2 linked regions of the Homo sapiens genome follow. The protein of the gene in region 2 purifies or fractionates together with the protein of the main gene of each other region. This does not show direct contact. Each region holds a gene or a part of one and is shown on either strand. Other genes may lie near its edges. The genes, in order: MPP4 and CRB1.

What was found.
Region 1: the proteins of CRB1 (region 2) and MPP4 purify together in Homo sapiens (co-immunoprecipitation; one study listed by IntAct). This does not show direct contact.

The regions. Positions count from the first base shown.
Region 1 is NC_000002.12:201,674,645-201,678,473, forward strand, and holds part of MPP4 (MAGUK p55 subfamily member 4), read right to left. Parts: intron 628-3,829; coding exon 563-627; intron 1-562.
Region 2 is NC_000001.11:197,474,010-197,476,690, forward strand, and holds part of CRB1 (protein crumbs homolog 1 isoform 1 precursor), read left to right. Parts: intron 1-2,681. UniProt on the Homo sapiens protein: Plays a role in photoreceptor morphogenesis in the retina. May maintain cell polarization and adhesion.

The sequences.
Region 1 (3,829 bases), on a different chromosome or scaffold from region 2:
TTATTTATAGTTTAAATGATAACAGTCCTTCCCCTAAAACTCAGCCGCCTTTATAAAGCTAATGAGAGACCATCAAGTTAGTGGAAGGAGAGGAGCCTGAATTCTGCTAAGGTGTAGACTGTCATAAGATATGCAATTTCCCCAATAATTCCTGCAAATAACATTACTATTGTAGAACCTAAGATTGGCCTTTTGTGACATCTTTTTAGGTTTTTTGCATGTCTGACACCTGTGGCTCCATCTGGACCCACCAACCAATGGCTCCTGTGGCTCCACCCAGAAGCAACTCAGTACAAGAGGACAGCTTCAACTCCCTATGATTTCGTCTCTGATCCAACCAATCAGTAGCAAGTGCCCACTGAATAGCCACCACCCCCACGCCCTCCCCAAACTACCTTTGAAAAACCCCTAATCTAGGGCCCTTCAAGGAGATTGATTTAAATAACAACTCCATCTCCCATGTGGCATGGCCAGCCTCACATCAATTAGACTCTTTATTTACTGCAATGCCATGGTCTTTATTGCAAACAGGAAGAACCTGTCGGGCAGTTGCAATACTCACATAGGGTTGACTTGAGGCAGGTGTGAGGCTGGTACGGCTGAGACCACCAGAATTCCCGTTGCTTCCTATGGGGGGGAAAAAACCATGCGACAAAAAACAAACAAAAACCACTCTTTGTTAACCTAGATGAAACAGACCCAGAGCAACGACAAACAGAATGTTTCTTAGAATTCTGCTGCCTTCACTCAAGTGAAAAGGGTGATTGCTTCTCCAAATACATTGTCAAATAAATTTTCCAAACATATAGGCTCTCTCATGTCTTCTTCTGCCTCACGGGATCTTTTCAGAACAACAAAGACTTACAGTGACAATCTCGCACATGATCACAAGTTTGCACATGGAGTTTCAGTAAATGACCCGTGGTAAGCTGCCTCTCAGGCATGTTAGCCTGTCTTTGCAGTCTCCTTCGAATTCTCATGACATGTTCAGGTTTCCCTCTCAGGCTATTAGAGGCTCTCTACAGTTTCTATAGATGACTCTGCTCCTTTCTTGATCTCTAGCATCACCCCTGGGCTCCAGGGCAAGGCTTCACCTTTTCTTGGCACCTGAAACCTCTGTTGACTTGTTCCTCTTCCCTTGAGTCCCCCAGCAATTTCTTTGGGCAGGTTTTCCTTGCCTTGCCTACTTCAAAGCAACTTTCTAAGCAAAGTTGCTCTTCCTTCTTTATTCAACACTGTGAAGTTTGGAGCAAGAGAAGATTTCGAAGACACTCTGTTCTTTGTATTCCCAGAACTGCAGCATCACCTTTACCTGGGAGCTTGTGAGGACTGCAGAATCTCAGTCTCCACCCCAAGCCTTCCAAATTAGAATCTCCATTTTAATAAGAGCCCAGGTAAGTCATATGTATGTTAAAGGCAACAAGCTCTAATTTAATCTCTCAAACTTTGGAATACATCTGAGGTGTTTGTTAAAATGCAAATAATCTGGGCCTCCCAGAGCTCCTGCCTCCAATTCCCTGGAGATAAGGCCAGGGCATCTACATGTTTAAATCAAACTCTCCATGTGATTCTAATTCACAAGAGAGTTGAAGAAGGGCCAATTTAGTCCACCTTCCTCACTTTAGAAATGAGGAAACTGATCCAGGGAAGTCAAGCAATGTGGTGGAGGTTGAACAGTTAGCAGCAGGAGGCATCTATGCTATAATCTACAAAGTGATGGACTGGGATTCAACAGACCTGGGTTCCAGGCATGCTTCCCCTCCTTAGGATCTTGGACAAATCTCCTAATGTCTGAAACTTAGTTCCCCACTTTTGAAATGGGGCTCAGCGCATTTGGCATCGTGAGGACTAAATAATACATGAGACCTTACTGTAAACTCAATTAGCATGGACATGCAGGGCATTCAGATTCATTAATTATTTGAAGAGATAACATATACACAGAGTAAAAATCTTAACAGTATAAAAAAGTAGGCTGGGTGTGGTGGCTCACGCCTGTAATCCCAGCACTTTGGGAGGCCGAGGCAGGCAGATCACCTGAGGTCAGGAGTTCGAGACCAGCTTGGCCAACACAGTGAAACCCCATCTCTACTAAAAATACAAAAATTAGTTGGACGTGGTGGTGCGCACCTGGAGTCCCAGCTACTCTGGAGGCTGAGGCAGGGAAATGGCTTGAACCCAAGAGGCCAGGGCTGCAGTGAGCTGAGATCATGCCACTGCACTCCAGCCTGGTGACAGAGCAAGACTCCATCTCAAAAAATAAAAACATTTAAAAAGTAAGGCTTCTTCCCTTCCTTCTGCTCAGTTTCTTGTGCATTCTTCCAGAAATATTCTCTGCATAATTAAGGTACTTTAATTCACAGCACATGCAGGCCAGAGCCAAGATTCTTGATTCCTAGTTAGGTGATGAGCTCTGTAAATATCTGTGTTTCCTGTTTTTTAACCTTCTGTACCTTTCCTTGGTTACTCCATGGTTAATTACCTGGTAGTCTGATCTCTCTCTATCTCTGTCTCTGTGTCTCTCATTCTCTATCAGCTTCCTCTCTAGGCTTCACCCTGGCCTTTCTCCTCTGGGAGCTCCTGGTTTTTCATTCTTACAAAATGCTATCCTGTACATCTTCACATGTTCCCTCTGGGGGAAACTCCAGCGAATGGGGCCTCTCACTGGAAAGTCACGTCTACTTGCCAAAAATATTTGCTACTCTGGCACAAACCATCAACATCTAACTCCCCCAATTTGCAATAGAGTCATTCCAAACTCCTTTAGATGGGTATTATTTTCCACCAATATGCCCTTTTTGGAGAAGCCTTCCTCCTCACTCTTTCACAGTTTTCTAAAATCAGATATAATTTTCTACCTGTTGAAAGTAAAAACAAACAAGCAAAACCAAAACAAAACCCCCCCAGCTACTTGCATTCAAATCTGTCACTCTTATAAAGAGTTTAAAAAATATTTTATGCGCTCATTCACTATTCCTAAGCACAATGCTGCTCTTCATACCACTTACCCTGAGCACCTGAGGCGCTTGGTGAAGATGCAGATTCCTGGCTCAGTCCATATCTATTGAATCAGATCCTCAGAGAGGGGAGGGCAGAGCCGGGGAATCCGTATTTTACAAAATACCCAGCTCATTTTTACTCATAGCAAAGTTGGAGAGGTAGGAAGAGAGAAAAATTGTTTGTAGATATCAAAGACCTCATTTATTGAGGCTCAGAGATACTGACTTCTCAAAAGCCACATCAGCCCGCGCTCGGGGCAGGCCTCTTGCCCAGATATGGCAGCGGATTTAGTCTCAACACCCTCCTCCAGTCCTCCAATGTGCCTCCTGGTTTTCTGAATGAGATTCAGGAGAGTCCGAGGTGCCTTCCATTATTCTGTCCCCAACAAGACATTTGTGTAGACTCTGCTATTGACATATTGCTTCTAAATGAAATTGCTTAATTTCTTATTTTCATATTAGGTTTTCACGTGGCAATGACTAAAAGCAGCATGAGAACTTCCTATCATTCTTTGTTTGTGTGCCCCCCCAAGAAACCCATAATTGGGTTTTGTGTGCTCCTTGCAAGGCCCCTGCCAGACCCTCCTCACCACTTTCTGACCTGAAACCATGAGGACTAATCTCATTAGGCCTTTATCCCTGTTCATGTCCTTCAGCCCCCAAGCTCAGGTCACCCCTTATCCCCTGTGCTTTAATCCCTATAAGACCCCTTCCACCCACCCACGCCCTCTGGAACCCACAGCAAATCTTCAGCAAACTCTCTTAGACCTCAGCCTCTTCTTTGAGCCCTTTCTTCTTGCTTTAACTGCAGCCCAACTCTCCCTGTGGTC
Region 2 (2,681 bases):
CTGGGAATTGCAATATTAGGTTTGTAGGTTGGCTCCCTTGGTCATACTGCAACGTCCTGAGGGAATTCTAGTTTATCTTTTAAAAGCAAATAGAATTAGGGAAAATGATAAATGGTATACTAATGACTACTAATATGTTTGTGTATTTGAGAACTTCCTATAGGCTGTGCTTTTTGTATTTTACATTCTTTGTGTTTTATTTGGTCCCATCCTTTGAAGTAGATGTTAATATTCCATTTTATAAATGATGAAAATGAGTTCCTAAGAGGTGAAATAACTTGCTGTGTTTGCACAAGTAATTGGCAGAGCCACGAATCAAACCCAGGTCTCTGCCTCTGAAGACTGACCTCTTAACCACTTCATTACACAGCCAGGACTGGCAGAGGTGGGGCTGGATCCCAGGCCTTGAATTTGCTCTTTTATTTTTATCACATTTTTAAGAACAGCAAAGCAACTGTAGATGAAGGACTTGGTTCCTCAGGAGTCCCAAAATATGTGAAACAGGTCAGCCCTCTGGTTCAACCTGAATTGAGGTACTAACAAGGACTCGGGACCCACCCCCATGAGTCCTTCTTCCTCTCCTGTTGCAGCATAGCAGATGAGAGGATCTGGGAAGCCTCAGTTTACCCAATGTAATCAATCTCAGGCTGAATGAGAAGAGAAGGGCCTGGAAAAGTTTAGAAAACAGAGACAAACCAAGTGATTTTTCTCTTGTGTGCATGGGTGTGGGCACTCCCAACTCTCTCATCCAGGAGAACCGCCATTTACTCCAACAGATGACATGATTTACCAGACAGATTAAGATGAAATCAACATCTAAGAACAAGAGTGTGCATTTTCTAAAGATCATTGGATAGTACTAAGGTGTTTTTCTGGTCAGATTTCATCTGCTCTTCTGTGTCCCAGCCTTTTGACCTTTCAAGCCCAACTCTGCGGTTCTGTTCCTCTTTCCCAGGCCAGAGTTATCTTTATTGATAAAACATATAATTATTTACAAAAGCATGGCCACACAGTATGGATGGAGAGTTTGCCCTCTAGTTGACATAAACTATTTTTTCTAAAAAACTACTGAACTCTATGAAATTCTATATGCTTTACTTCAAAAGCTCCAGTCATTGTCATAACCCAGAATTTTTCACAGTAATATGAAGGAGAGATGGAGTAGTAAACATATTTCTAATGATCTAATAGTACTATATTCTTGAATGTCTCCAAGGCACCTAAGACCAGCTTTTCCCAGCCTGACCTCATATTCTTCCTACACAAACCTCATGTGAACCCAGTTTTTCCTCATGTGAGCCCAATTTCAATGACTGACATCCCAATCCACCTGCTCATCTAATGTGGTATCAACAGCCATCTTCATCCTTCCTCTCTTCCCCACTACCCCACACAATCTGACATGGGGTGATGCTGAATTTACCTCAGAAATCCCTGTCAAACATTCTTTCCCTTCAATTCTCACTCCTTTGCTAAATTTAGACCTAGGTAATCTCTTATCATGACTAATAAGATAAACTAACTTCTCTGCCTCCAATTTCTTCCCCACCTACACTATCTCCCATCCTCCACCCTGTTACCAGAGCTTATCAAGTCATGCTTTTGCTTAAATATCTTCAGTGGCTCCTCACTGACTACAGGACAAAGTCTGAGTTTAGTGTGGCATTCACATTTCTTAACAAGACCCTTCTACTTTATAGTATTTTCTCTCACCAACTCTTTTCACCCTTTCCCAATTCAAACATACACATTCATGGTCAATGTATTGGTCAATATAGTATTTTCTCTCACCAACTCTTTTCACCCTTTCCCAATTCAAACATACACATTCGGTCACACTGGGTTTCTTACTCTTTCCCTAAATTCTAAGGACTTTTATGTCTTCTTGCGTTTTATGTTTTGTTTTTGTTTTTGTTTTGAGACAGAGTTTTGCTCTATCACCCAGGGTGGAGTGCAGTAGCCTGATCTCAGCTTACATCAACCTCCGCATCTCGGGTTCAAGCGATTCTTCTGCCTCAGCCTCCCAAGTCGTTGGGATTACAGGCACCCACCACCATGCCCTGCTAATTTTTGTATATTTAGTAGAGATAGGGTTTCACCATGTTGGCCAGGCTGGTCTCGAACTCCTGACCTCAGGTGATCTGCCCACCTCAGCTTCCGAAAGTGCTGGGATTACAGATATGAGCCACCGAGATTGTCTCATTAAAGTGGAATTTCCTCCTTGAAGTACTTGAGCATCCACTAATCCTTCAAAGGACAATCATGTCTCATTCCAATCTTGCTCCACCTACTCCTCAACACAATTAATTCATCACATGGTCATAACACCTATCTGTAATGTATTATGATTATTTGTGTGTGTGTGTGTGTGTGTGTGTGTGTGTGTGTGCGCGTCTTCCTCTTCTCCTATCTCCAGAATTTGAGCTCCAGATTCCAAACTTTTATTTGTCTTTGTATTTTCATTTCCTAGCTCAGTAAATGCTCATAGTAAATGGTCAATAAGTATTGCTGATTGAATGCACAAACTAATGAACCACATTTGAGCAAGGATTATTGTGAGTAGATCCCAGACAATACTATGAAGCTGTTAAAATATTATATTAATTGTATAATAATTTAAACCAAGACACAGGGGACAATAAAAAGAGACTAAGGATAGAAAAGATATTTAAACTCTCTAG